Homo sapiens: one gene and its partners. The protein of the gene in region 3 interacts with the protein of the main gene of each other region in a biochemical or structural test. Each region holds a gene or a part of one and is shown on either strand. Other genes may lie near its edges.

What was found.
Region 1: of the proteins of UBL4A (region 3) and AMFR, one has a biochemical effect on the other in vitro, tested with the Homo sapiens proteins (one study listed by BioGRID).
Region 2: the proteins of UBL4A (region 3) and RNF126 form a complex in vitro, tested with the Homo sapiens proteins (one study listed by BioGRID).
Region 4: the proteins of UBL4A (region 3) and SGTA form a complex in vitro, tested with the Homo sapiens proteins (3 studies listed by BioGRID, with this or other methods).

What each region holds. Positions count from the first base shown.
Region 1 is NC_000016.10:56,408,546-56,415,545, forward strand, and holds part of AMFR (E3 ubiquitin-protein ligase AMFR), read right to left. Parts: intron 5,800-7,000; coding exon 5,707-5,799; intron 1,044-5,706; coding exon 879-1,043; intron 1-878. UniProt on the Homo sapiens protein: E3 ubiquitin-protein ligase that mediates the polyubiquitination of lysine and cysteine residues on target proteins, such as CD3D, CYP3A4, CFTR, INSIG1, SOAT2/ACAT2 and APOB for proteasomal degradation.
Region 2 is NC_000019.10:660,213-667,362, reverse strand, and holds the start of RNF126 (E3 ubiquitin-protein ligase RNF126), read left to right. Parts: upstream 1-4,148; 5' UTR 4,149-4,241; coding exon 4,242-4,316; intron 4,317-7,150. UniProt on the Homo sapiens protein: E3 ubiquitin-protein ligase that mediates ubiquitination oF target proteins. Depending on the associated E2 ligase, mediates 'Lys-27'-, 'Lys-29'-, 'Lys-48'- and/or 'Lys-63'-linked polyubiquitination of substrates.
Region 3 is NC_000023.11:154,483,591-154,490,699, reverse strand, and holds UBL4A (ubiquitin-like protein 4A), read left to right. Parts: upstream 1-4,084; 5' UTR 4,085-4,115; coding exon 4,116-4,163; intron 4,164-4,366; coding exon 4,367-4,472; intron 4,473-4,720; coding exon 4,721-4,929; intron 4,930-5,050; coding exon 5,051-5,161; 3' UTR 5,162-6,983; downstream 6,984-7,109. Other genes in the region: SLC10A3 (P3 protein), read left to right, coding at 590-726, 1,618-3,193. UniProt on the Homo sapiens protein: As part of a cytosolic protein quality control complex, the BAG6/BAT3 complex, maintains misfolded and hydrophobic patches-containing proteins in a soluble state and participates in their proper delivery to the endoplasmic reticulum or alternatively can promote their sorting to the proteasome where they undergo degradation.
Region 4 is NC_000019.10:2,780,252-2,788,243, reverse strand, and holds the start of SGTA (small glutamine-rich tetratricopeptide repeat-containing protein alpha), read left to right. Parts: upstream 1-4,970; 5' UTR 4,971-5,011; intron 5,012-5,496; exon of another isoform or gene 5,497-5,674; intron 5,675-7,992. Other genes in the region: THOP1 (thimet oligopeptidase), read right to left, coding at 2,566-2,581. UniProt on the Homo sapiens protein: Co-chaperone that binds misfolded and hydrophobic patches-containing client proteins in the cytosol. Mediates their targeting to the endoplasmic reticulum but also regulates their sorting to the proteasome when targeting fails.

The DNA of each region.
Region 1 (7,000 bases), on a different chromosome or scaffold from region 3:
AAATGCAATCCAGGCACAGGTTTACCACTACTACAACGTGATGTCAGCATTATGCAAGGAGAGGCAACAGTCTGAAAAGAAGGCCTAGAGCTGCAACTCCTGAGGTCACAGGCGGAGATTAAAAAAAACAGTTTGGGAGGTTAGAAGCTCCTGTTTGTGACTTCAAATGAGGGTTGAATGTGAAAGAAATAAAGGCTGTGAGAGTGAGATTAACTCAAACCAAGGTGCAAGGTCCATGTGGACTGGGTAAAGACAGGGAAAAACAAGGCCCTGGAGCGGGTTTAACTGAGGGGCAGCACTGTAGATGCACATTTATCTGGGACTCATGAGACTACTTCAGGTCACTAATGGGTTGAAGGTTCACTCATACAGCTATGATCTGAAACCAAGTGACAGATCTTGTACCAGACATAAAATGATTCACTTCGCAAACAAGGAAGCTGAGGGAGCTAATTCAGTCCTGGCCCGGGGTGGAAATAGTATAAACTACTCAGAAAGAAGAGCTCCACGAACCAGAGTAAGCTGGGAGAGACAGAAGGAGACTAGAACAGAAAATATCTAGAAAAGACCAGATTTTATTGTTTATGTATCAAGGTTTCCTTGCACTGTGAACAAAACAGTCTGCATAGGTGAAGTGACCCCATGTTAGCAGTAAGTAAACACTATGGGGTTGGGAAGAAAGCTCCCCAGGAGACAACGATTCTGCATCTCTTGGCTGCTGTAGAAAGTTCTTCAAGAAACAGGCAATGGGGGCCTGATCTAGAAGTCTTCCCAGAAGAGCTACCCTGACCATGCCTGCTGTGGCTCATTCACATTACACAATTCAAAGTTGGCAAACGTGGTGACTAAGCAAGCAAAAAGCTTGGCTAAAAACTCACATATTCAAATCGATCCTTGCAGAGCTGAACCATCAGGTGCAGAAAGACAAGTCCGGCAAACCAGAGGCACCACATGACCACCTCTTCCACTGTCTGGACATTCAGCACACCAAAGATGAAAATGAACTTGTAGAAAATAAAATTCCAAAATTTGTCTTTGAGATGCTAAAAAAGAAAAATGTTTATGAAGGTGAGTACCATCACACCTACCCCATTTGAGGGAAGTTACCATAACAAAAGCCGGCTTCTATGGAAGATATATTCTGCACTTGGCTTTCTAATACTTGTCCTCAAGAAAACAGAAAAAAAAAAAAAAAAAAAAAAAGCAGCCATCTGAAGAATGGAGGTAAGACACCCAGAAACTAATCTGTAAACTTTGGACTATAACCCTAAATCAATTATGGAATGTTAGCTATTCAAAGGATAGCGATATTAGTTTAGTAACTTATATATTAAGAAATAGGCCAGGCGCAGTGGCTCATATCTGTAACCCCAGCACTTTTGGAGGCTGAGGTGGGTAGACAGCTTGAGCTCAAGAGTTTGAGATGAGCCTCGGTAACATGGGGAAACCCCATCTCTACCAAAAAAAAAAATACAAAAATTAGCTGGGAATGGTGGTGCACACCTGTAGTCCCACCTACTCAGGAGGCTAAGGTGGGAGGATTGCTTGAGCCCAGGAGGTCAAGGCTACAGTGAGCCATCATCATGCCACTGCACTCCAGCCTGGGTGACAGAGCAAGACCTTCTCTCAAAAAAAAGAAAAAAATGCTTACATTTTTAATGCACAATGAAAAAGAATGGCAAGGGCTATCATTTTTACTACTTCTACCTTCCAGATTCTTACACAATAGAAAAGATTAGACTTTGTAAAAAAAATTCTTCAAATTAAAAAATAACACAACACAACCACTTGCCAGCCCATAATAAAGGCGGCATAAAAAGTACAAAGAAAATGAAAAATGCTGCCTTAACATTTTTATGAATTTTCTTGTCTTTTCCCTATGTACAAAACACATTACTTTTTGTACAATGCTTTCTTTCACCTATTGTATTGTTAGAACCTTAACAATGTCAATGAATATTCTCTGAATATACCAATATACCGTTTCAATGGCTAAAGATGGACACTGAAACTGTTTTAAAATTTTCACCACGCAAAAAAAACATTATAATGAGGGCCGGGCGTGGTGGCTCATGCACGAAATCCCAGCATTTTGGGTGGCCAGGGCAGGCGGATCACTTGAGCCCAGGAGTTCGAGACCAGCCTGGGTAACATGGCAAAATCCTGTCTCTACTAAAAATACAAAAATTAGCTGAGCATGGTGGCACAAGCCTGTAATCCCAGCTACTTGGGAGGCTGAGGCATTAGAATTGCTTGAACCTGGGAGGTCGAGGTTGCAGGGAGCCATGATCATGCCACTGCACTCCAGCCTGGGCAACAGAGCAAGACTCTGTCTCAAAAAAAAAAAAAAATTGTGATGAATATTTTTGTATGTATCTTTGTATGAGTTACTTCAGCACTGTCAAATCAAAAATTGCAAAGATTTTTATGGTTTATAGTAAAATCTACCTAACTTCCAAAGCAGTCCTGTAAGTGTACATTCCCATGGGCAGTGTGTATGCATATTTGCTTCACTGTACTCTTTTACACAGAGGGCTTCCAGTTTTAACAATCTTCACTAACCCTGAAATAGGAGAGCAATAAGGAGGGTCTAGTTCCCCCACATGTTAAAATAGACTATCAAGCCGTCTAGGGGGGTCAGGGAGAACTGACTGAAGAGGATAAGAATGGAAGCATGATTCTAAGTATACTTTTTTTTTTTTTTTTAAAGAGACAGAGTCTCACTCTGTCATCCTGGCTGGAGTGCAGTGGCCCAGTAGTAGCTCACTGCAGCCCCAAACTCCTGCGCTCAAGCGATCCTCCCACCTCAGCCTTCTGAGTAGCTGGGATTACAGGCACATGACATCATGCCCGGCTAATGTTTTTTATATTTATATTTTGCAGAGATGGGGCCTCCCTCTGTTGCTAAGGCTGGTCGCAAACTCCTGGGCTCAAGTGATCCCACCTTGGTCTCCCAAAAGAATGCTTTTATATGTAATTTGGAACCATGTAAATGTTTCACAAATTCAAAAAATAAACACAAAAAAGCAAAATATACTACAAATTAACAACGTGACTCCTTAAAGATTTTGAGAACTTAAACACACTGTACTCTGACCAGATATCTTTTGTAGAGAACAAAATAAAGTGGAAAAAAATCATAGAGTATGCCCTAATTCTATCCATCAAAAGGGCAGAGACACCCTAGTGGTAATGAGCACACTCAGCCAGTATACAGCTTGGCTTCTAAATATCATTGCCCAATAACGTGAACTAGGAATCGTTGGTGAAATGTCTGTTTCCAGACCTGGTGCAGGGAAAGTACAAGGTGAACTTAGGACATTTTGTGCCCTGGTTTTGAATGACACTGCCACTTGGCTCTGCCATTTAGTTTCTGTGTGACCTTGGGAAAGTCACTTAACATCCCTGTGCTTTAGTTTCCTCATCCATACAATAGGTCTTATAATAACAGCATATACCTCATAGAATTGTTGGGGGAATTATACATAATATATGTGAAATGGTTAGACAAGTGCCATACTAGGCACTAAGCACTTAAAAACGCATCAAAAAGCTTCCTTGCTCTAAACCTCCACTTAACATTTTAATCATTTTAGATATTCGATGTCTTTGCCTCTAGCATTACTCTATTTCTAGAACTTTAAGCACCCAAGAGCAAACCCATGTCAATCCTAGAGATTTCTAACTCAAAATGGTTCCTAATTGATGCTACTGGATGACATTAAACATAAATAAACCAACACAGAACAGCAGGGAAGATGCGATCGATGCTGAAAAAAATTAAAGTGGAGCTGGATAAGAAATATGCTCATTATAATTACCTCTGGATCTAGTTAAAAAATCTCTAAAATACTCCAAGGTTATACTTTCTATAAATTTCAACCTGATAGAAGTAACCTTTTAGGGAAAAGAAAGTATATAAAGCCCACTGGTGCCAGATCAATCCACCAAGCCTGCCTGGCCTGACCAATTTCTGGTCCACAAATAAAAAATTTGAAGAGAAACTTGAAGAAGTATCAAAAGAAGCATTTAAGCCAGTAGAAGTGGCTCACACCTATAATTCCAGCACTTTGGGAGGCTGAGGCGGGCGGACTGCTTGAACTCAACAGTTTGAGACCAACCTGGGCAGCATGGTGAAATTCCGTCTCTACAAACACCTAAACAATTAGCCAGGTGTGACACATGCCTGTAGTCTCAGGTACTCAGGAGGCTGAGATGGGAGGAGACTGCTTGAGCCCAGGAGGTTGAGACTGCAGTGAGTGGAGATCGCACCACTGCACTCCAGCCTGGGTGACAGAGCAAGACGCTGTCTCAAAAGAAAAAAAAAAAAAGGCAGCATTTACAACCTATCTGGGAGACCTCTAGAGTCGATACTGGAGAAAGTGCTGAAAATGAAAAATCTCTGAGAATACAAAATAGTCCTGTTCACAATGGCATCCAAGGGCTCAACCACCAAGTAATACATGTCAGCTCTAAACTAGGACTTCAGCTGATTTTATAAAAGGAAATTTGGGTTGAAAAGGGTAGGTAAGGAGAGAATGGAACACTCTGAACATAAAGTAAAGCTGCTGTTGTGCTTTTCATATAGTAGGTTCCTGTGTTTTATCACTGGGATAAGATAGAATAAAACACAATTTTGTTCTTATGTTGTGATTTTGAAGGCCAGTTCTAAATTTTTACTTTAAAACATACCATGCCAGGCACAGTGGCTCACGCCTGTAATCCCAGCACTTTGGGAGGCCAAGGCAGGCGGATCACCTGAGGTCAGGAGTTTGAGACCAGCCCGGCCAACGTGGCGAAATCCTGTCTCTACTAAAAATATATAAATTAGCTGTGGTGCACACCTGTATTCCCAGCTACTTGGGAGGTTGAAGCAGGACAAGTGCTTGAACCCGGGAGGCAGAGGTTGCAGTGAGCTGAGATTGCGCCACTGCACTGCAGCCTGGGTGACAGAGCAAGACTCCGACTCAAAAAAAAAAAAAAAAATTATTCTACACCCTACCCACTCAAATCCTCAGCGAACTGCCAATCTATACAGTATGCTTGTGGCGTAATTCTTCATTGAAAGCATCCCCTGCCCATTCTGAGTCACTTTCCAATGTCAGACAATCTCACCCAAAACAAGAACAAATCTCCTAATTTTATGCTTTTAGAACAATGATTCTTAATTCACCTTCCCACAGAGAAAATTATCTTGGTAAATTCTTTTGGAAAAGAACCCACATTCTACAGAGTGACATTTATGATCATTCAAAATAAAACAAATCTAGGCTTCTTTAAAAACGACATTCCTAAAAGTCATGAAGAAAAACAGCTATAAAAAACAATATTGGGACAACTTGGCTACACTGAATATGGACTGTGGATTAGACAAAGTATTTTTTCAATGTTAAATTTCCTAATTTTAATCACTGTGCTGTAAAAATGCCTTTGCTCTTAGAAAATACAAACTGAAGTATTTAGGGGTAAAGGGGTAATGATGTCCACAACTTACTCTCAAATGAATCAGAAAAAAAAGTATGTATAAATAAAAAGTGAAGATTAAAGCAAATGGAACAAAATATTAACAACTGGCGAATCTGGATAAAGGGTATATAGGAGTTTTCTGTAGTATTCATGGAACTTTTCCACACATCTGAAATCATAATACAAAGTTTAAAAAAAAAAATCTAGTCACAAGAATCCATCCTTTCAGTGTAGACTTACCTGTCTCTCACTCACTCGAAGAGGGCCAAACACAATACACTGGATGAGCTTAGCCACCAACATCAAAACACAGCAAGCGGTATTTACTAGAACCTGTAAACAAATCAGAGAAAGGAAGTTTATTTCTTCCTGCTGAAAAATAAAAGCAGCTCTAAAAATCTCATATTAGGAATTCAGCCATCATTTCCAGTGACTGAGCCTTTCTGGTTCTCTCCCAATGCAAGATAAGGAATATCTGAAAAGGCACACTGTTCTGGGGAGTGGGTGTTAGGGATGAGGACCGGAAAGAGAGGCACCAGCTCACCAGCTAAGTCACAGTTCTTGTCCCAATACGCACCCTCCAGCAGGCCACCTTATCTTTCATCCTTAACTGAATTGTGTGTATACTTTGTACTGTATGTGCAAAACTACATTAACCTCGTAAACTGCAGGTCCTTCCCAAGTACCTCATTTCCGACATTATTTTGACAGCCTTGAAGAAAACTGTTCTAGAAATTGAAGTTACCGTGAATAGTAAAACCCAGCACCCAGAGATTCTGCCCTGCCAAACAAATAGGAGGTAGGGGTAGGAGTGTGGATGGTCACAAAAAAGTCTCATCATAAGGAACTAATAATATAAATATATATATACAGAGAGAATATTTTAATATTTATTGGAATGGAAAAATCTTTCAACCAAAAGATAAATGTTCTCCATGCTTGGTGTTGGCTTTGAAGTAAAGGTTTTGTGGCACTGCAGCAGGGTGGAATGGGTTAAACAGAAGGAAAAGAAAACCGGCGAGAGGGGCCAAGAGATGAAAGGCAACCTGGGGATACCAATGCAAAACCAAGGCCTTCTTCAACAGTCTATGAGAAAACTTGAAAAACAAAACAAAACAAAACAAAACTCTAAATGATGAATATCCTTACACCTAAACGCCAAATCTTAATGCTTACAAAATGGAAGAGTTGGCTGTCCCCAACCCAGAGATTAGTGTGGGGTATCACATTACTCTGAATGACTCCAAAAAGCCAAAAGGACCTTGATAAAAACAGTACAGATGACTTGTTGAGAGCAAATGAAAAGGAACTCCAATTCAATGTAAAGCTGCTTCTGCCTCTGATTCACTACGTTTACCATATTACCCTTGCCAAGTCATTCTTCCCTCTACTTTTAAAAGCAAATGATAATTTTAAAGAAGAAAGAAAGGGGATAGAGGAGAGTAATTTAAGAAAGCAAGATCCCTGAGATCACCTCAGGGTCTGTTTAGTACCTCATGCCATCCCTCCTTTGGGAGAACACTTAAGGGCAGCC
Region 2 (7,150 bases), on a different chromosome or scaffold from region 3:
ACGTGGTCCGCCTGGGCTTGGTCCGCCTGGGACGTGGTCCGCCTGGGACGTGGTCCGCCTGGGACGTGGTCCGCCTGGGCTTGGTCTGCCTGGGACGTGGTCCACCTGGGCTTGGTCTGCCTGGGACGTGGTCCACCTGGGCTTGGTCTGCCTGGGACGTGAGAATGAGCTGTCAACACACCTCTCTGCCCCGGAGGGAGTGGCGCGTGTCATTCCTTTAGGAGTCCTCTCGTCTCATGTTTGCCGAGGCCCCCAGGGTTCACGGGGACGGGATCCTGAATTGAAAAAGGGGCTAAGAGAGCTCACGGAACCAAGCCCACACCTGTCGAGGTCCCTGGTGAGAGGAAATGGGAGAAACGGTGCCGTCTGTGGAACCAGGGTGGCCGGTGGGGCCTGGGGCAGGGTGCAAGTGTGTGCATTTGTGTGCAGCAGTGTCAGTGCCCACTGGCCGATTTGATCAATGTGCTACTGCCTTCAGGGAAGAGCAGCCTGCTTTTTGGTGTGTTTGGGATAAAGGGGTGGCCGGGCACTCTGGCTCACACCTGTGATCCCCACACTTTGGGAGGCCAAGGTGGGAGGATCCCGTGAGCCCAGGAGTTGGAGATCACTCTGGGCAACATAGCCAGATCCTATCTCTACAAAATAAAAATTTAAAACGATTAGCCTCACGCCTGTGATCCCAGCACTTTGGGAGGCTGAGGTGGGCGGATCACCTGAGGTCAGGAGTTGGAGACCAGCCTACTTAACATGGAGAAACTCCGTCTCTACTAGAAGGACAAAAATTAGCCGGGCGTGGTGGCACATGCCTGTAATCCCAGCTACTTGGGAGGCTGAGCCAGGATAATCGCTTGATCCTAGGAGGCAGAATTTGCAGTGAGCCCAGATCATGCCACTGCACTCCAGCCTGGGCGGCAGAGGGAGACCCATCTCAAACAAAACAAAACAAAACAAAACAAAACAAAAAAGATGGGGTCTCCATCTGTGGCCCAGGCTGGAGTGCAGTGGTCCGATCTCAGCTCACTGCAACCTCTGCCTCCTGCTCAAGTGATCCTTCTGTCTCAGCCTCCTGAGTAGGTGGGATCACAGGTGCCCGCCACCACACCTGGCTAATTTTTGTATTTTTAGTAGAGACACGGTTTCACCATGTAGCCCAGGCTGGTCTTCAACTCCTGGACTCAAGTGATCCTCCTGCCTCAGCCTCTCAAGGTGCTGGGATTACAGGCATGAGCCACTGTCCCCGGCCTAATTCTATTTTTGTAGAGACAGGGTCTCACTATGTTGCTCAGGATGGTTTTGAACTCCTGGTCTCAGGCGTGAGCCACCTCGCCCTGCTTAGTTTGATACAAAATCCCTACGTTCCTTCTCATTCCCACTGTGTTTCCAGCACCTGCTTGAGCCCAGCACACAGTAGACACTCGGCAACTGTTGGTGCATTTGGGAATCTACTGAACACCTACTGGTGCGCTGGGTATTGGCCTCACATATGGGGAGACGCCATTAATAACCCACAGATGTGAGGATGGCTGTGGGGGATGGAAAGGGGGCTCTGAGAAGTGGGGTGCAGTGGTGGATGGGGCAGCCTCCTAAAAACCAGGGGAAAGGGCCGGGCGCGGTGGCTCACGCCTGTCATCCCAGCACTTTGGGACGCCGAGGTGGGCGGATCACCTGAGGTCAGGAGTTCGAGACCAGCCTGGCCAACATGGCGAAACCCCAGCTCTACTAAAAATACAAAAATTAGCCGGGCGTGGTGGCGCATGCCTGTGATCCCAGCTACTCGGGAGGCTGAGGCAGGAGAATCGCTTGACCCCTGGAGGCGGAGGTTGCAGTGAGCTGAGATCGCACCATTGCACTCCAGCCTGGGCAACAGAGTGAGACTCCATCTCAAAAAAAAAAAAAAAAAAAAAAAAAAGCAGGGGAAGGAGAGGGGACTTGGGGAAGGGCACAGCCTTGCAAGGCCCAGAGGTGGGAACCTGCTTAGCCCACCCAAGGGGGCCAGTGAGGCTGGGGAGGGGTCAGCGAGGGGCAGGTGACTCGGGGCAGGCAGCAGAGCACAGAGAGGGCTGAGGAGGTGCCAGCGGTCCTCATGTCTGCTCCGAGCCAACGGAAAACCGTCAGGTTCTGCCGCCTTCTCAGAGGTTAGGCCACTTGCCTAGGGACACACAGCCAGTTCGTGGTTTGGCGTCGTTTGAACCAGGCCTGCTGCTCCTCCTGCACTTGCGGAGCGTGAAGGCTGGTGCAGGGGCTGCGTCTGGCAAGCCTCGCCCCTCCCCAGCCTGGGGTTTTCCTGGATTCCCAGGGACGGGGCCCGTGCGCTCTCTGGTGGTCAGAGCAGGAATGACTGGATTCGCGCTGCTGCAAAGACGACTGGAAGGAGGCTGAAGCCCCTGTCCCCAACCTCTGGACATTCAAAACCCTAAATGCAGGCCGGGCGCGGTGGCTTACGCCTGTAATCCCAGCACTATGGCAGGCCGAGGCGGGCGGATCACCTGAGGTCAGGAGTTTGAGACCAGCCTGGCCAACATAGTGAAACCCCGTCTACTAAAAATACAAAAATTAGGCGGGCGTGGTGGTGCCCAGCCTGTAATCCCAGCAACTCGGGAGCCTGAGGCAGGAGAATCACTTGAACCCGGGAGGCGGAGGTTACAGTGAACCGAGATTGCGCCATTGCACTGCAGCCTGGGCAACAGAGCCAGACTCCATCTCTAAAAAACAAACAAACAAACAAAAAATCTAAATGCACAGGCTCCAACTCTTAATTCCTCAACAGTCTCGCTCCAATGCCTCATTTTGCAGGAAGTCCAACTCCAACCAAATCCTATTCATCCCTCAGCCCTGGTTCCAATGTCCTTACCCCTCGGAAGCCCTCTCTCTCTTTCCCCAGGCAGAGCCAGAGTCACCCTTGAGTTCCACGCTCCTGTCCAATCTCATGGGACTGGGGGTATCTGCGTGCATTCAGCATAGGGTCTGGTGTGCAGTAGTTGCTCAATGAGTGTTGAGTGAAGAAAGAAATACACGCATGAGGCCGGGCGCGGTGGCTCATGCCTGTAATCCCAGCACTTTGGGAGGCCGAGGCGGGCGGATCACGAGGTCAGGAGTTCAAGACCAGCCTGGCCAAATATAGTGAAACCCCGTTTCTACTAAAAATACAAAAATTAGCCGGTGTGGTGGCGGGTGCCTCTAGTCCTAGCTACTCGAGAGGCTGAGGCGGGAGAATCGCTTGAACCCTCGGCAGGCGGAGGTTGCAGTGAGCCGAGATCGGGCCATTGCACCCCAGCCTGGGTGACAGAGTGAGACTCCGTCTCAAAAAAAAAAAGAAAAAAGAAATGCATGCATGATTGGGCCAGAACTAACCTCAGAAATGATCCTGGCCTGTGCTGGGTGATGATACCGTTTCTACTGATTAAATTTGGAAGCAGGGGTTAGGTTTCCTGCCTTCTCCGCACCCGAGAGGCGCCTGGGCCGTCAGCCCGTGGAGCATCTTGGAAACAAGGCCACAACCCACAGACCTCAGCCTCTGTCTGACCCCACGGGTCCCAGTGAGGCCCAGACAGCGCCCTGAGCCCCGGGTCTGCCTGTATTCCGCAGCGCTGAGGGAATGCCTGCTGTGTGTCAGGCGCTGCTGCGGGTCCAAAAATCCCTTTGCTGCGCAGCTGACCTGACAGTGCATCGGGAGGGAATCAGTGCCACGGAGCAGGAGGGCAGCAGAGAAGACCTTGTAAGCTGACATTTGAGCAAAGACCTGGAAGAAAGCCACGCGGGCGTCGGGAGAGCGCTGCACCGGGCAGCGGGCGGGGGAGAGGGCGCCTGGCGAGCCCCAGGAACGGTGGGGACAGTGGGCTGAAGTACCGTGAGGGGAGACGGCGATGAGGTAGGGAAGCACTGAGGGACACGAAGGCCTGGGCAGCTTCGGGAGGGGAGGAGGGCCTCGGCCCCGCCCCGCGCACGCCCCGCTTCTCGTCTCTTCCGCCGCCTGCTTTGGCCCCGCCCCCGCCGGAAGCCCCGCCCCCGCTTGGAGCCCCGCCCAACGGCCGGGCCTAGTTTGTCTCTCAGCGGCCACCGTCGCCCGGGCCGCTGCCCGCCGAGTACGCAGCTTTCGCCGCTCCCGCGCCCCCGCTCCGCCCCGCGTGCCGTGCGTGCCGTGCGTGAGCGTGCGCGGGCGCGTCGGCCGGCGAGGGAGCAGCAAACGGCCGGCGGCGGGTGCCGCGCGGGGGGCGGGCGGCGCGGAGTAGGTGGCGGCGGCCATGGCCGAGGCGTCGCCGCATCCCGGACGGTACTTCTGCCACTGCTGCTCCGTGGAGATCGTCCCGCGCCTGCCGGTGAGGCCCGGGCCGGGGCGGCGGGCGGCAGGGTCTGCGCCGCAGGCCTGAGGCAAGGCCGGGGCCGGGGTGGGGGTCGCTTGCGCCCGCCTCTTGCGCGAGCTGACCACGACGGGAAAACTGAGGCTCGGGGCAGCGCCGGCCCAGGCTGAATCCGCGGGGAGCCCGGGCGGTGCGCGCGCGAACCCCGTCCTGTACATGCGGGAGACTGAGGCCCGGGCGGGAGGCAGGGCCTGGCCGGAGCGGCGCAGCGGGATCGCGGCCGGGTGACCCCACATCCGCGGCGTTCCCGACCCGAGAGGCCGCGAGGATCCCAGGTGGGATCCCTAAGCCCGGTGAGCCTGGTTTTGCAAACGGAGAAACTGAGGCCCGGCGAGCAGAGAGAGGGTATTGCCCGGTGGCGCGGCGCGGGGCAGGGGCTGGGCCTGGCGGGGCTCGGACCCCGAGAATAACGCCAGGGGACCCCCGCCGAGCGCGTGGTTGGGGGCGCCGGCGCCTCGCTGCAGGCTCGCCTCGTGGAGCCCTGGCCGCCGCCTTGGAGGCAGGCCCAGGCCCGGAACGCCCCAGGCACTGTCCCGGGGTCCGACCGCGGCCCGCCGGCGGGGCTTTGTGAGCAGAGCCTGCGTTCCTCCCCTCCCGGGGCTTGGCTGCGCAGCCCACCCTTCCTCCAGGTGTTTACAGCCGCCCCTCACCGAAGAGGACCCTGGGCCTGGGCGTGCCGAGTGCTACTTCCTGCTCGTTTAGGGCAGTGTTTCCCACGCGGACCTGATGTCACCTTGGGGGAGGTGGGAGCAGCGCTCGTTGAAGGTGCTATTTCCAGGCCCCTTTTCCAGGGTTTCGGAGTCAGTAGGTGTGGAATGCGCTCAGCAGTCTGCATTTCTAATATTATTTTTAGGAATGGGGTCTCCCTGTGTTGCCCAGGCTGGTCTTGAACTCCTGGGCTCAAGCGATTCTTCTGGCTCAGCCTCCCAAAACGCTGGGATTACAGGTGTGAGCCACCGTGCCCGGCGGTGGTCTGCATTTTTAACCCGTGTTGCCCTTCGCCAGGCTGACGTGCAAAGTGGTGATTTAGTCGAGCCACCCGTGCTTTATAGATGGGGAAACTGAGGCGCGTGGTGGCTCAGCGGGAAAGTGGCAGAGCCGGCTCAGTCGGGAGCCGCTTGGCCAGCTTGAGGGGAGCAGCCGCAGGAGGTGGAGGGGTCTGGACTCCCCACCCTGTGCCCAGGGGAAGAGGCTGCAGGCATTGAGGATTTACTGTGCTGTGTACGTAGCCGCCCGGCTGTTGCTACGCTTTGACCCGTAAGAGAAGTCCAAGCCCCCCAGAAGCAGTGCAGTTCCCCGGGAGTAGAGACCCAGGAAGGGGCTGGAGGGAGTCAGGAGAAGCCGCCTGTCTCTGGGTCACAGAGGAGGAGCGAGTGCTAGAGTTGGGGCATGGCGGGAGAGCGGGGCCAGGCCCAGGAGTGGAAAGAGAGAGGTGTGGTTTCCTCTCTACTGAAGCCACAGGGCTTCCCCTCCCCAGCAGGAGGAACAAATAAAGTGAAATCTCGGGTGTGGGGCGAAGGTTGGGGAGCTGAGACTGAGCCTTGCCTTACTCCTCTGTCTCCCAGGGGTCTCGCTCTTGCCTCTTCCAGCTTTCTGTCCCCACTGGCCGTGGCAGGAGAGGCTGGTTGCCTGACAGCCCGCCAGCCTGGGTGAGTTGCAGGGCAGCCCCTTGCAGCCCCTTGAGCCCTGGGACAGGCCTGGGAAGCCCCTGGGAAGCCTGGAGTGGTGGCTGTGGGGGGCCGACACTGCCTTGACTCGGCTGCACATTTAGCTGCTCCTAGAGCCCGCACAGGACTGGATCCTGGTGTGGTGGAGCCACTTCCTCGCCCCGTGGCCTTGGACACGGAGGACCTTGACCTCCTCCGACTGTCACTGGGCCTGGGGAGGGCCTTCCTGTAGTGAAAGGAACTCTGTGGTGACAGGCCGCTGTGGTCTTTGCCCTCACAGAATTTACAGGCTGGCCAGGGAGCCAGCATGGAACAGTGATTGACAAATATTTAATCATGGACGTTGGTAGATTCCTTAAGAGCAAATAACTGCAGAGAGGGCTGCGGGGGCCTGCCCGTGTCCACCCCGCGGGTGATCCCAAGGGCATCTGCTTGTGCCTTTGGAGCAGGACGCAACAAGGCGCCCGTAGACAGCATGGCAGTGTCAGAACTTCTCCGTACGTGGCAGGACCCTGTCTCTACAGAAGACTAAAACAATTAGTGGGGTGTGTTGTTGCACTCCTGGAGTCCCAGCTACTGGCGGGGGCTGAGGTGGTGGGAGGAGCGCTTGAGCCTGGGAGGTGGAGGCTGCGGTGAGCCGTGATGGTGCCAGTGCACTCCAGCCTGGGTGACAAGCAAGACGCTGTCTCAAAAACGAATTTTTTATGCTGGGAAATGGGCACACCTGGCGTTTGTTCTGGGGAGGGACGGCTGCTCCGTATCTGGCAATGGGGAAAGTCCCCAGCCACAACCAGTGCCCTCGAAACGGGGCGTCTCTGCCGCTGGGGAGCTTGCCCGGCGGCTGAGTCAGGGGCGGCACTGCTGCTGCTGAGACACCTGGGCTGGCTGTCGGGAAGCTCCTGCCTGCCTCTGACGCAGGGGGGACTGGCTGCCATGGGCTGTGTGCCTGCCCACGAGGGCTTCTCCCAGGCAGCTGGGCCGTTCCGGGCCTCCTTTGCTGTCCTGGGCTCTGGGATCAGGCTGAGGCCCCGCGCAGCTGGGTCATTCTCTGCTGGGCAGCCTTGGCCTCAGTCTCCTCACCTGCCAAGTGGGTTTAGTGATGCGATTCGCTCCCCGTGGCATCTG
Region 3 (7,109 bases):
CGGGGAAGGGAGGGGCTTCGGTGGGGCGGGGCCCTGACAGGCCGAGCTCGCGGGCGACTGCCGGCCAGGCAGACGCTGCAGCTAAGCTGCGCGGTGGCTGTGGCAGGTGAGAGCCTCCGGAAGGGAGGCGGCCTCTGGCCCCGACCCTGCTCCGCGATCGCCCACTCGGGCGCCCGGCCGGGCCTGGCAGGGAAGGGCCGCCGCCGCCGCCGCGCGTTTGCGAGGCCTGGCGGGGCCGCGGGGCCCAGGAATGGCGTAAGGGGCCCCCCCAGACTCCGAGACGGCCCGAGCGGGTCGCCGGCTGTGGGACGGCGGCGTGCCCTTCCTTTCCTCCCTCCCAGGTTCGCGCCCGAGCTCTGCTAGCCACCCGTCCGACAACTTCCGGACTCCCAGGTAGGGAGGAGCCCCTGTTAGCACTGCCAGTTACCCCGAACACTTGGCCGTTTTGGAAGGGCCGGGACTCCCTCCCCTGCCTTGTGGGTGCATCTGCTCAAACTCTGTCGGCCCCTCAAGCAGAAATGGTGTGGGATCTGGGCCAAACCCCTCTTGGAGTGACTCAGAGCCGCCAGCCCTACTGGAGGGATGGGGCATGGGGTGGATGGCCCCTAGCCTTTCCCTTCTGAGCTGGTTTGTATCACCCCGGTGGCTTCAGTCCTGGTGCCTTCATCTTAGCTCCTGTACTTTGCCTCTCCCACCCCACTGGTTTTCCTGCCTCCCTCTTCAGAGGTAAGACACATGGCTGGACCAAGGCCTCCAGGGTAAGTGACCCGAACTTCAAGCCAGCAGAGGCCATGTCATCCTAAGCTAGGGATAGGGGAGGCTCGCCGGGATGAGCCTTTGGCTTAACCTAACCTCTGCTCCCTACTTCTGCCTCACCCCAGTCTCAGATGACGGGAGGCCAATGCCAAAGACGGATAGGATCTATAGAGGCAGTCCTCTTCTAGGACTGGGACACAACAGTGCATGAGGCAACTGACAGGGGTGATGTAAAGCTGTTGTGTCTCCATCCTGGTTGCCCCAGTTCTAGCAGGTGATGTGACACTACGGTGGTCGCTGCCCAGATTGAGAAGTGGAAGGGGGTGTTGCTGGCCGCTAGAAACACTCATAATTCCACTGAGTTTGAGGCTCTGGTAGGGGCGCATGTGGGCATGGGAAGGAGCCCTGCACTCTGAGCACAGCCTCTCAGATGTAACGCAGTGGCTCTGGGAGGTCAAAGTCTCAGCCCAGTGGGAGCTCTGACAAAAGGAGGAGAAACCCCCCCAGTAGACATGTGGCTCTGTCTGATCCACTCCTGCCGCCCCTTCTGGCAACTTCCCTGGGGAGGGAGGACCTGCTTCCCAGCAGGACCTTCATCGAGTCACTGTAGGGGCAGGTAGAGTGGGCCAGGGAGCCACAGCTGAATGGCACTCAAGGGCCATCACTAGGCATTGCCTCTCCATTCCTGAGTGTGGGGCAAGGGTCCCTGCTGAGTTTTACTCTTAGCAGTGGGCTTCCAGATCCCCATGCTCCTGGGTTCTTGACTGCCTCCCTCTTCAGAGGTAAGACACATGGCTGGACCAAGGCCTCCAGGGTAAGTGACCCTCACCAGCTGCCTCTCTGTGTCCCTTACCTCCTCAGGGACAGCCCTGCCATCAAGGAAGACAGCACAGGACTGGGACCCACCCATGAACCCTTCTCAGGACAACCCAACAGCACCAGTGGGGATGTTCTCCTAAGCCGCAGAGGGCCTGGGCACGCCATCCGTCCTCCAGGAAGAGCCATGGTGTTAATGCAGGACAAGGGCAGCTCTCAGCAGTGGCCTGGTCTGGGGGGCGAGGGTGGTGGCACAGGTCCCTTAAGCATGCTCAGAGCTGCCCTGCTGCTCATCAGCCTGCCATGGGGGGCCCAAGGGACAGCCAGCACCAGCCTCAGCACTGCTGGGGGTCACACCGTGCCACCGACTGGGGGCCGCTACTTGAGCATTGGAGATGGCTCTGTGATGGAGTTTGAGTTTCCTGAGGACAGTGAGGGCATCATCGTGATCTCCAGCCAGTACCCAGGCCAGGCCAACAGGACGGCGCCTGGCCCCATGCTCAGGGTCACCTCCCTGGACACAGAGGTGCTGACCATCAAGAACGTGAGTGCTATAACCTGGGGAGGCGGGGGTGGCTTTGTGGTGAGCATCCACTCAGGCCTGGCTGGGCTGGCCCCACTCCACATCCAGCTCGTGGACGCCCATGAGGCCCCGCCCACACTGATTGAGGAGCGGAGAGACTTCTGCATCAAGGTCTCACCTGCTGAAGACACGCCTGCCACCCTCAGCGCCGACCTGGCCCACTTCTCGGAAAACCCAATCCTCTACCTGCTCCTGCCTCTTATCTTTGTCAACAAGTGTTCGTTTGGGTGCAAAGTGGAACTCGAGGTTCTGAAGGGGCTCATGCAGAGCCCCCAGCCCATGCTGCTGGGCCTCCTGGGCCAGTTTCTGGTCATGCCCTTGTACGCTTTCCTCATGGCCAAGGTCTTCATGCTGCCCAAGGCCCTGGCTCTGGGCCTCATCATCACCTGCTCGTCGCCTGGCGGCGGGGGGAGCTACCTCTTCAGCCTCCTTCTTGGAGGGGACGTCACCCTGGCCATCTCCATGACTTTCCTCTCTACGGTGGCTGCCACTGGCTTCTTGCCTCTGTCTTCGGCCATCTACAGCCGCCTGCTCAGCATCCATGAGACGCTCCACGTGCCCATCTCCAAGATCCTGGGGACCCTGCTGTTCATTGCCATCCCCATAGCCGTGGGCGTGCTGATCAAGTCCAAGCTCCCCAAGTTCTCCCAGCTGCTGCTGCAGGTCGTCAAGCCCTTCAGCTTTGTGCTCCTCCTGGGCGGCCTCTTCCTGGCCTATCGCATGGGGGTCTTCATCCTGGCAGGCATCCGGCTACCCATCGTACTGGTGGGTATCACGGTGCCCCTGGTTGGCCTGTTGGTGGGCTACTGCCTAGCCACGTGTCTGAAGCTGCCAGTGGCCCAGCGGCGGACGGTCAGCATTGAGGTAGGGGTGCAGAACAGCCTGCTGGCCTTGGCCATGCTGCAGCTATCCCTCCGCCGCCTTCAAGCTGACTATGCCTCCCAGGCCCCCTTCATTGTGGCGCTGAGCGGCACCTCCGAGATGCTGGCCTTGGTCATTGGCCACTTCATCTACAGCAGCCTGTTCCCAGTTCCCTGAGGCCTCTGGGTCAAGCTTTCATCAGCCCCAGCCCCCACACTCCACCAAAGTTCTCATGCACTATGCACTCAGAAAAATCCAGGCTTATTTTTTTTACTGATTTTTTATTCTCCAGCTTTCAGTGCCAAAGAGGCCATGCTGAGTTAGGTAGGTGGGCGCTGCCCAGAAAATATATTTCAATAAAAGAGAGAAGCAAGCTTGGGTCCCTTCTACTCTTTGCCCTTTGGGGCCTGGGCGTGGGGGTAGAAAGAGTGTGCTGGGTAAGTGTGGACCAGGGTGGAGGGCCAGCTTGGGTGACACGGTGACCCCTGCATAGGCTTTCCCTATCAGCCCTCCCCGGGGGTGTCCCCACTCTGGGAGAGGTGGGAGGATGAGGGCAGAGGCGTAGCCCCCCTGCCCCCTCTCAAGCTCAGTGGAGCGTTTCGCAGCCAGACCAGAAAGGAGGAGGTAGGAAGCCACCAGACAGGGAGCGGGGGCGGGCCGTCTGTGGGTATGCAGGGCCAGGCGCCGCCAGCAGTCCTGGCGCGTGAGGTGGGCCAGGCAGTCCGCGGGGGCGAGCGTACCTTCTGGCCCTCCCTTCTCCATGTCCCAGCTCCCAGATGACGCCAACCTGGCCCGACTGGTTCCTGCTCCCAACTCCCCCGCGTCGTTGCTTTGGGAGGGGTCCGCCGGCCAGGGCGGTCGATGCGCGCATGCTAGGCGGGACCCCGGGGGGACTCCTCCCGGGGCGCAATTGGGCCGGGGGGCGGGGCCGGGGCGCGGACGGGGCAGGAGGGCGGGGCCGGGAAGCGCGGGCGGCGGGCGCGCCCCTCTCGCTGCTTCCGGCGGCGGCGGGCGGTTCCAGCGCGCGCCCGGGGCGGCGGCGCGCGGCGGGGGGTGGTTGGGGTGCGCGCCGGCCCGAGTGGACGCCGTCGCGACCGCCATGCAGCTGACGGTGAAGGCGCTGCAGGGCCGCGAGTGCAGCCTGCAGGTAGGGTCCCCGGGCCGGGCCGCCGGGTCCGGCGCGCTCTCTCGCCCGCTCCTGGCAGGGGGACCGGCAGGGCCGAGGGCGGGCACGGGGCGGCCGGGCCGAGGGCCGGGAGCCGGGAGAGCTGCCCTCGGGGGCGGACGCGTGGGCTTCGCCGTCTGGGGGCCGCGGGCTCAACCCTTGCCTCCCACCCTCCGCGCGGCCAGGTGCCAGAGGACGAGCTGGTGTCCACGCTGAAGCAGCTGGTCTCCGAGAAGCTGAACGTCCCAGTGCGCCAGCAGCGGCTGCTGTTCAAGGGCAAGGCCCTGGCAGGTACCCAGGGAGAGGAGACGCCCGGGGAGCCCCGCAGGAAGCGGGACCGGGGTGCGCGGGCCGAGGCCAGCAGCCGTGTGTCGGGTCGGGGTGCGGGCGCCAAGCGCCACATGACCCCAAGGGAGGCGGCCGCATGCCTCACAGCCGGATGCCGCAGCGCTCCGCTCCCGCCGCCCGAGGCGGCCTCGCGCCCCGGGCCACCCCCACGGCGGTGGAGGAGGAGGAACCCATCGATCTGTCTTTGGCAGATGGGAAACGACTCTCGGATTATAGCATCGGGCCCAACTCCAAGCTCAACCTAGTGGTCAAACCCCTGGAGAAGGTGCTACTAGAAGAAGGCGAGGCCCAGAGGCTGGCCGACTCCCCACCCCCGCAGGTCTGGCAGCTGATCTCCAAAGTCTTGGCCCGCCACTTCAGTGCGGCAGATGCCAGCAGGGTCCTGGAACAGCTACAGAGGGTGAGAAGGGTAACCCTGGGCATCCTCTTCAGGCCCAGTTGCTCCCAGCCCCTACCTCTGTTGCAGTGTATGCCCCCCCACCACTGGCAGCCCCTGAATCTTCCTGCCCTTCTCTCCCCAGGATTACGAGAGGTCCCTGAGTCGCCTGACGCTGGACGACATCGAACGGTTGGCCAGCCGCTTCCTGCACCCTGAAGTGACTGAGACAATGGAGAAGGGCTTCTCCAAATAGAATTCTCGGAGCATGGGGAGGTGCCCAACGCCAGGCTACCGCTGCATGTCGCACTAAGTGTGTTCTCCTGTTGCAGTTGGGCTCATCATCATCATAGCTGGCATGTACCTGGCTCTGGCCAGGTGCTAGGCACTCCTCACAGCTTGACCTGGGTTTGCTTCCACACCCTCAGAAGAGGAGAGCCGGCACAGCAGAGGCACCGGCGATGAAGTGGCACAGCCCCAGTCGGAATCCAGCGGCTTCTGAAAGTGCCTTGGTGTGAGAAGGAGGAAGGGGCCGCTTGGAGAGCTGGGCTCTCGCATGTCATGTTTAGCCCACTGAGAATATACCCTCAGGTGACTCCCTCCCGATCCTGAAAGGGAAAGCAGCTGTCACCTGACTTCTGGCGGGTCCAACATAGCCCTCAGCTTACCTCTGCAGGAGGCCAAGTGACAGCCAGCCCTGGAACCCCCCGACCCCCGCAGCTGCTGCAGCCAGTGTGCCAGTGTGCGTTCGACAAATGGAAAAGCAGATTGGGGCCAGGGAGTCAGCAAGGCACCCCAGCTCTGTGATGTGACTTTGGGCGAGTCTCAGTGCCACTTGGTCCCCAGCCATGGACTCTATACAGTGAGGGCCACTCACCGACCTGAGTCAGTGTCCTCTGTCTCACAGGGCCCCTCTCCCTTCTGTTCAGTAAACAAACTGAAGCCAAAAATGAAGCCGTGGCCAAGTGTGACCCAGAGATGGGGTGTCCTGGCCCTTAGTGACACAGCTCCTCTCTGGGGCACCCTATCTGCTTGTCTCGTCCAGGAAGCGTTAGGGCTGATGGGTGACTCAGCAAGGCAGTGTCAGAGCTGGGACTGGGCGTAGGCCTTTGTCCTCATCCCCAGCACTGGCCTCCCTGTGGAAGATGAACATATCCCAGCCACCTGTGTACAGGGGCTCACTTTGTGTGCTCCTTGTTGCCTGAGAAGAAACCTTGGGGTGCCAGGGTGGGGGCAGAAGCATGGACTGGGTTCCGGTTCATCCTCCTCCACCCTGCCGTGTGTGTGGGCACAAGAGGACATCTAACCACCTGCTCCTTGGAGGAGGCCCCCAGGGGTGGTAGAGGCTGGAAGGAAGCCACATCAGGAGGACGCCACTCCGGCCCTTCACCCTTGCCAAGTGAGCTGCTCACAGTGTGGTCAGGGCTGCGCGTGCTGGAGGCCCTCCTGCCTGGGCCTTGTGGGGCAAATATTGGGTCCCCAGGCTGGAAAGATGGACAGAGGCCCAATGGGTGAAGGCTTTGAAGAGCACACAGAAGCCCCTGGCCCCCCACGAGAGCTGGAGAGCCATGTATATGGCTTCAAAGCCACCTACGGCAGGGACACACTCGTGAGCATGTGTGGCCTGCAGTTCAGGTGATACATTTACCAGTGTTCTTGTTTGTGTGGTGCCAGGAAATTGATTTTGGAAAAAGTGAAATAACATTAAAGGTGAATGTGAGGCTTCTACTTTTATCCAAAAGGAGCTATATTAGCTAGGCTGTTTCTGATATCCAATCATTGGTTTAACAATAAAGGCAATTTGTTTAATCAGTTAACGGAAATTTCTTGGCTTATGAAAGTGAAAAGTCCAGTGGTATTGGCATTGGCAGCAGGTGAGCAATTTCACCCAGTGTCTTCTGCCTCCCTCTGCGTTGGTATCTGCTACATCCCAGGCCACCACCTCCGAGGATGAAAAGATGGCTGCCTGCAGCTTCCACGGAATCCCTCCCTCACTGCCAGAGCAGCATCTTCTCTGTGTACCACCTCTGCTGTCTCAGATGCCCCCAGCAAATAAACACTCTTCTCGTTGGTCAGAACTGGATTGTGCGTCCAATCATTTTGGCTGGGGTAGGGGGTAATTCTCCGTCAGGGCTGGCTCCCTGGAGCTAGGCATGGGGCCACTTCCCTGGACACACATGGGCTATGCAAGGGACAGAAGGCTC
Region 4 (7,992 bases), on a different chromosome or scaffold from region 3:
GGCAAGAAACATTAACTCTCAGGCTTCCCACCTGCAAAACGGGAACAATTCAGGGTGCAGAGAACAAGAACTGTCTAAGAATTCAGTGAGGTATGAAGGCAAAACATCTTGTATCCTGAATACCACCAGAAAGTTTTCAAGAGGTAGCTGTTATTACAGACCATGCTCTCCTGTCCAAAAAGTCTTGGGGCCGGGGACATTTTAACATTCAGAATTTCCCCCCATTGTAGAACAGTATTAATAGAGTCCAAGTGCCATGTATTCCAAATCACTAGGGAGGCTGAGGCAGCACTCCGAAATCAAATTACTCTTTCTGCAGTGAGATGCAGGAATACGCACCAGGGTGTCTCTCTGTCTGCACTGTGGCCATTGGGGCCGGATCGTTTTCTGGGGTGGAGCTGTCCTGGGCACTGCAGGGTGCTGAGCAGCGTCCCCGGCCTCCATCCATTCCATACCAGGAGCGCCCCCCAACTGTGACAACCACAAATGTCCCCAGACACCGTCCAGTGTCCCCAGAGGTAGCACAATCACCCCAGCTGAGAATCAATGATATTCGCTAAGTGGGAAAAAGAAAGGCTCTCAGTCGGTCAGTTGAGGTCATTTTCTGGCCAAATGACTTTGCTGTAAACTTAAGGCAAACCTTTCAGTTTACAGAGTATTTAGGATTTTAGAACTGCAAAAAAGGGACTGTGGATCTACATTAAACCGTGGGGTAAAGAAGAGCTTCAGGGGCTCAGAAAGGATGGAGATGGATGGGAACTGGAACTGTCAGAAAATTCTCCTGCAGGAGTTAGGATTTGAAAAACTTGTGGACGTCAGTTCATCCTGTAAATATTTACTGATTGTGCCAAGGATCCAGTAGCAAACAAGGCAGACAACATTCCTTCCTTCCCAAGGCCTGAATATCCCTGACTATCATTATTACAATTATCACCCTCATCGCAATGGGCTGGACAAAGAGCTGGGGGAGTGTGGCTGGGCAAGAGAAAAGCCAAGGATCAGGCAAGGAGTTGCTTCAACAACCTGAGTGACCTTCTAAAACCCAGGCCGGGCACGGTGGCTCATGCCTGTAATCCCAGCACTTTCGGAGGTCGAAGCAGACGGATCACTTGAGGTCAGAAGTTCGAGACCACCCTGGCCAAGATGGTGAAACCCCATCTCTACTAATAATACAAAAATTAGCCAGGTGTGACGGGCGTGGTGACTCACGCCTGTAATCCCAGCACTTTGGGAGGCCGAGGCGGGTGGATCACGAGGTCAGGAGATGGAGATCATCCTGGCTAGCACCGTCTCTACTAAAAATACAAAAAAAATTAGCTGGGCGTGGTGGCAGGCGCCTGTAGTCCCAGCTACTCAGGAGGCTGAGGCAGGAGAATGGCGTGAACCTGGGAGGCGGAGCTTGCAGTGAGCCGAGATCGCGCCACTGCACTCCAGCCTGGGTGACGGACCAAGACTCTATCTCCAAAAAAAAAAAAAAATTAGCCAGGTGTGGTGGTGGGCGCCTGAAATCCCAGCTGCTTGGGAGGCTGAAGCAGCATAGCTTGAACCCGGGAGGCGGAGGTTGCGGTGAGCCTGTGTGAGCAGAGATTGCACCACTACACCCCAGCCTGGGAGACACAGACTGTCTCAAAAAATAAACCAACAAATAAATAAATAAACAGTACACAGGTCACATCGCCCCTTTGCCTCTAAATTAAAAGGGTCTTGGCTGGGTACAGTGGCTCATGTCTGTAATCCCAGCACTTTGGGAGGCCGAGGCAGGTGGATTGCTTGAACCCAGGACTTCAAGACCAGCCTGGGCAACATGGCGAAACCTCGTTTCTACAAAAAATTAGCCAAGTGTGGTGGTGCAGGCCTGTAGTCCCAGTTACTCAGGTGGCTGAGGCGGGAGGATTGACTGAGTCCAAGAGTTCGAGGCTGCAGGGAGTCGTGATCGCACCACTGCACTCCCGCTTGGGAGACAAAGTAAATAAATAACAAAATTAAAAGGTCCCCTCGTTACGTTCCAGCCAAACTGACTTTCTGCTCTCCAAACACGTTCCCTCCTCCCGGGACGCCTCCTTCCCCGGTCTTGGCAGGACACTTGCTTCTCCCAATCAAGCAAGTCGACGCTCACCTCTTCAGAAAAGCCCCCCAGGAACCACCCTCTCTCTAAAAACGTGTCCCTGGGACTGCCCCGTTCGTGTTTATCTGCACCAGAGCACCGATCCCTCCCTATCTTCGATCCTCTCTTATTTAATTTTTGAATGTCTGTCTGTGGCTCTAGAATTCCAGGAAAACGGGACTGGAGTCGTTAAATCACGGCCTCCCCAGGGTCCGCCACGGGGCCCGACCCATCCGGAAGGGAAGCGCCATCAACTTTGCAGAATGAATGAAGCGCTGGAAAAGCTGGTTCATTCATTCGGCAAACGAGAGAGCAGGGTCGTCCACCTCCCCCGCTGCCCCTCCAGCCCGGCCGAGGGTGGCTCGGGGGTCGCTTCGCTCCAGCCTTAGGCCCAAGTCGCGACCCCGGGAGGAGCGAGGGTGCAGGGGACGCCCGGGTCCGGCGAGCGGGGTAGTCGGTACCTGCGGGGGGCTTCATGGCGGGTGGGTCTGCGCCTGCGGCTCCCTCCCTCCTTCCACCTGCTACGCGTCCAGCCACCTCGGCCACTGAGGCCGCCTGCCTCGGCCCAACCGCCGCCACCGCCGCCACGGCCGCCTGAGGACCAAGGGGCCCGCCGCCCGCGCTCCCGGGGCATGCTGGGGCGGCGCGCGCACAGGGAGGGCAGGACGCACGCGCCCCTGAGCCCCGCCCACAGCTAAAGGAGGAGGGCCGGGAGTGCGCTGGAGCCCTCTGCGCACTCGCCGTAACCCTCCCGGTCCGTTATTGGTCTCGGCGGTGCGTGGGCGGAGCCTCTTGCTCTACCATTCCAGAGCCGCTGGGGTGGCTAGGACGGACGGTTTCCTTGGAAACCGCGCACGCCGCTGACGCCTCTGAGCCTCTGCGCGGCTCATTGCGCTGAGACTTCGCTTGGGCTTCAGGCTACCGCGTTAATGTGTACTTGCCTCGCTTCTTATAGCTGTGTGTTGGGCCAGTGTTATTATTGATCGCTTACTGTATATCCCAGGCCCACTTTCCAGCATCTGAATCCGACGAATCAATTAAATTAACCAGAAGTTTTGGTGCTTTGGTTGTTTTTGAGACGGAGTCTCGCTCTGTCGCCCAGGCTGGAGTGCAGTAGCAGCAATCTCGGCTCACTGCAACCTCCGCCTCCCTGGTTCAAGTAATTTTCCTGCCTCAGCCTTTCCAGGAGCTGGGACTACAGGCGCCAGCCCCCACCCCGGCTAATTTTTGTATTTTTAGTAAAGAGGGGGTTTCACCATGTTGGCCAGGATGGTCTTGATCTCTTGACCTCGTGATCCGCCCGCCTCGGCCTCCCAAAGTGCTGGGATTACAGGTGTGAGCCACCGCGCCGGGCCAAGTTTTTTTTTTTTTTTTTTTTTTTGTCAGAAACAAAAGCAAGTAAACGGATTCATGTCAAATAACAGGTGTTGTGGAACAGTGCAGTAGCCTGACCTACATGCAGTGTTGTGGGTTAAAACAAAAAACATCTTGAACCATCTGTCTTGAACTGTTAGGGCACCCAGAAAAAACAATGTACTACAATTAAACTGGCAAAAACCAAAACAACCGACCTCCTTTCTTCCCTTTTTTTGTTTTTGTTTTGTTTTCTTTTGCTTTGGAGGGGCTGGAGGGAGTCTCGCTCAGTCGCCCAGGCTGGAGTGCAATGGCGCGATCTCGGCTCGCTGCAACCTCTGCCTCTCGGGTTCAAGCGATTCTCCTGTCTCAGCGTCCCGAGTAGCTGGGACTACAAATGCCCGCACCACGCCCGGCTAATTTTTGCATTTTTAGTAGATACAGGGTTTCACCGTGTTGGCCAGGCTGGTCTCGAACTCCTGACATCAAGTGATCTGCCCCCTGGCCTCCCAAAGTGCTGGGATTACAGGCGTGAGCCACCACGGCCGGCCTCACCTCCTTTATTTCTGCAAAAGAAATTAAAATAATCCACGCCATTAATCGTGCATGTATTTTGAGTAGGACGAAAATGAATTGGGAGAACATTTCTGGCAACTGTAACTTAGATGGTGATCAGTTTTCTGTCGTCCTTGGAAATGTCTCATCACATGTCTTGAGCAACACCAAGATTAATTTTACATCGGCGTTCATTTTCGCTGTTCCCTGTGCCTGGGGTCCGTTTGGACTTTCCTATCCTTGAAATCCAAATGTAAAGGATGATCTTTCCTACCCATCCCATGCGACTTAGCTCCCAGTGACAATCACACTACCTTCATTTTTTTTTTCTTAGTGTTTGCTGTGAAATTTGTTTCTCTATTTATGTACTAGTTTATTAGTTTATAGTCCGTCTACCCCAATGCAAAATAATGAGAGTAGACACTTTGCTGGTTTTTATGGCTGCTTTGCAATAAATATTGAATGAATATTAGGCACCTGCTGTCTACAAATGGCTCTATACTCACAAACGTCTCACACTGCATGAAAGAATGCATTTGTGGGTGAGTAGATGGGTGGGTGAATAAATGAACAAAGATAGTAAGCGGGTAACACTGACTCCCATTCATTGCGCAGCTGTGACGCTCTGGAGTCCAGGTGTCCAAACGCGGCTGCACCACGTGGCCGGCCCAGCACCACGTGGTCAGCTCGGCGACCGGCTGGAGTCAGCCACTGTTCCACCGTGCACCGCTTCATTCCCGCTCTAGAGGGCAAACCAGACCCGATTTCCGGCCTCCATTAGGTCGCAGAGGTCAGTTGCCCTAACAACCAGCTGGTTCCCGCCTCTACGTTGCGTCACTTCCTTCCACGCCCGCCTCCATCATTAACGCGCCTGTGCAGAAGGGAAGCAACTCCGGGCGCCTTTCTTTTGCGCAGGCGTCGCGCCCTGGGGCCGGGGCCGGGCGGCACCGCGGTGCGCAAGCGCAACCGTCGGTGGGTCGGGGATCGGTCGCCTGAGAGGTGAGTGAGGGGCACTGCGCTGAGCCTGGTGGGTCTGGGGTCTGCGGCTCGGGGCCCACGGGGCCCCAAAGCTCGTAAGAGTTTGGGGATCGTGAGGCCAGGGTCACCGCGACCCGCGGGGTCCTGTGAGTAGGCGGTGCGGAGGGGAAACTGAGGCCGGGCGCCATCGGGCAGGCCCTTCGAGCCCTGATCTCCCTTCCCCAGGCCCCAGGTCCTGGAAATGCTGGTCCGCGGCCTGGTGGCGAGGACGGCGGGAGGGGAAGGCGCCCCGCATGTAGTGAGCGCTCGCTGGGTGTTCGCTGCCGTTCCGCTCTTATTAACCGCCTGGAAACGTCGTCCCTGTGACTCAGGGACCCCCGTTTGTGGGGACTGAAGTCGGAACTCTGGTTCCAGCGCCGCCAGTCCCTACCTGGGTGACCTTGCCCAGCCTCTTGGCTTCTCGGAGCCTCAGTTTTCCCCTCTGTAAAACGGGCGTTGTTCAAAAGTCCCTGCCTAGGAGAAGGAGAGCCGCAGGGTCCAGCGGAATCTGAGAACTCCAAAGAATTAGCAGGCGTTCGTCTTATATCATGTTTAGAGTCTTCTTCTGCATATCGTGCTAGAGGTGGGGGAAATCTGGGATTCAGGACCGTCCACCACCACCTCCCACCCGCTGTGTAAACCTGGGTGAGTCGCCTTCCCTCTCTGAGCAAACTGTTCCTTCTTTCGCAAACGAGTTGTAAAAGCAGATGCCTCGGAGGGTCATTATGAGGATAAACCCACATTCAATTATTTGATCAGGTGCCTGGAACTTGATAAGAGAGAGCTGGCTTGAGAATAGCTGTTTTTGTTATTAGGTGCCAGAAAATTGCAGTGTAGTGTGCCCTTCAGAGGTTGAATGATTGTCCCATTTTCTTTTGTTTCTGTCTCTGATTATTCCTTTTGTCTGCCTTTTCCCTCCCTTGACCAGTGGTTCTCAACCAGGAACAATTCTGTGCCCCAGGGATTCTTGGTGACATTTGTGCTTGTCATGATTTGGGGGACCCCCTGGTTTGGAGTTGGTGGAGGCCAGGGTTGCTGCTCGGCACCCTGCAGTACCCAGGACGGCCTCACCCCAGAAAATGATCCAGCTTTAAATGTCAATAATGCTTTAAAAACCCTACCATACGGGCTGATGACCTGAGGTCAGGAGTTCAAGACCAGCCTAGCCAACGTGGTGAAACCCCGTCTCTACTGAAAATATGAAAATTAGCTGGGCATGGTGGTGTGCACCTGTAATCCCAGCTACTCAGGAGGCTGAGGCAGGAGAATCCCTTGAACCCAGGAGGCAGAGGTTGCAGTGACCCAACATCATGCCACTGCACTCCAGCCTGGGCGACAGAGCGAGACCCTGTCAAAAATAAAAAAAAAAAATCTACCCTAGATCAGTGATTCTTCACCAGCATGGGCAGCTGGGACTGTGTGGGCCCGGGAAATCGTGTACAAAGTTTTGTGTGTGCACCCAATTTCGTGCAGAGAGAAATGGGTACTTTGGAGTTTAGCTTCTCAAGTCAGACTGCCTGGGTTCAGAACTCCTCATTTTCATCCTCGGAGCTGGGTGGTCTCGGGTGGTCCCCATCTTTCCAAGCCTCAGTTTTTCTTCTGTGGAATGGGGATTATAATAGTAACCACCTCAGGTGTGTGAGGATTAAACCAGGCAAGGTATCAGCAAACTGACCAGAAGGCCAAATCCACCTCTGGCCTGTTTTTGTGAATGAAGGTTTGTAGGAACACAGCCACACTCCTTGGTTTATGCGTTACCTGTAGTTGATTTCGAGCTAAGAAGGCACAGTTGAACAGTTGCCATAGGGAACTTAACGCCTGCAGAGCTGAAGACAATCTGGCCCTTTTCAGAAAAACCTTTGCTGACCCCTAAAATAAGCTATCGCATGTACAGCACTTAACTGGGTGCCTGGAAAGCTGTAAGCACGCCAAGGATTTGAGCTGAGGTTTATAATTAAATCTTCCTAGAAGGGTGAATGATTCCAAATGCGGGTGAGCTCTGCCCCAGATTGGAGGATCCTTGAGAGCTGTCGTCTTACTCAATTCTACATTTTTTCTTTTTTATGCCAAGACCCAACAGTGGCTCTGGTAGGAAGTGCTCAGTACAGGCTGAAGGAACAAAGGGGTGGTTTGAGATAGGGTCTTGCTCTGTCGCCCAGGCTGGAGTGCAGTGGCACAATCTCTGCTCACTGCAGCCTCGACCTCCCAGGCTCAGGCCCTCCCACCTCAGCCTCCTGAGTAGCTGGGACTACAGGTATGCACTACTACACCCAGCTAATTTTTGTATTTTGTTTTAGAGATGGGGTTTCACTGTGTTGCCCAGGCTGGTCTCAAACTCCTGGGTTCAAGTGATCCTCCACCTTGGCCTCCAGAGTTCTGTGATTACAGGCGTGCCCCACTGCACCTGGCCCGTTTTCTCTTTTACTGAGGTGGAAACAGAGACCCAGAGAGAAATGGCCTCCCCAAGGAACGTGACCATGTGGCTGTGAATTTTTCAACAATCGCAGGCTTTCCTGAGTCCATAGGGTTTAGACGCTGCCAGATGCTGGCGTTCAAAGGGAAGATGGGTCTGTCAAGAGATAGAAAGCCTTGTAAGAGATGCTGGGCCAGAGATAGGAGTTTGCAGGAATACTAGATTCTCTCCTGGCGGAGTTGGGCAGGGGAGGTGAGCACTTGAGTTTGAGTGGCATGTACAGGGTTTGGTGTAGGCCCCACAGATGACCCCCAGCTGGTGAGAGGCCTCCTATGCACACTCCTGGGGTTGCAAGGAGCAGTTGAGAGCTTTTATGTGTGCAGCGATCTCCTGGTGGCATTTTAGAAGGAAGTAGGCTTCGATGTGGGGAGTGGGCAGGAGACTGAGCTAGAACTCGGGTATCCTAAGAGGGAGTGAGGAGCAGGGCACCCGGCTCTCCTGCCCTGCTGTTGGTGAGAAGCACCGTGGATTTGGGATGGAGTTGGGCAGA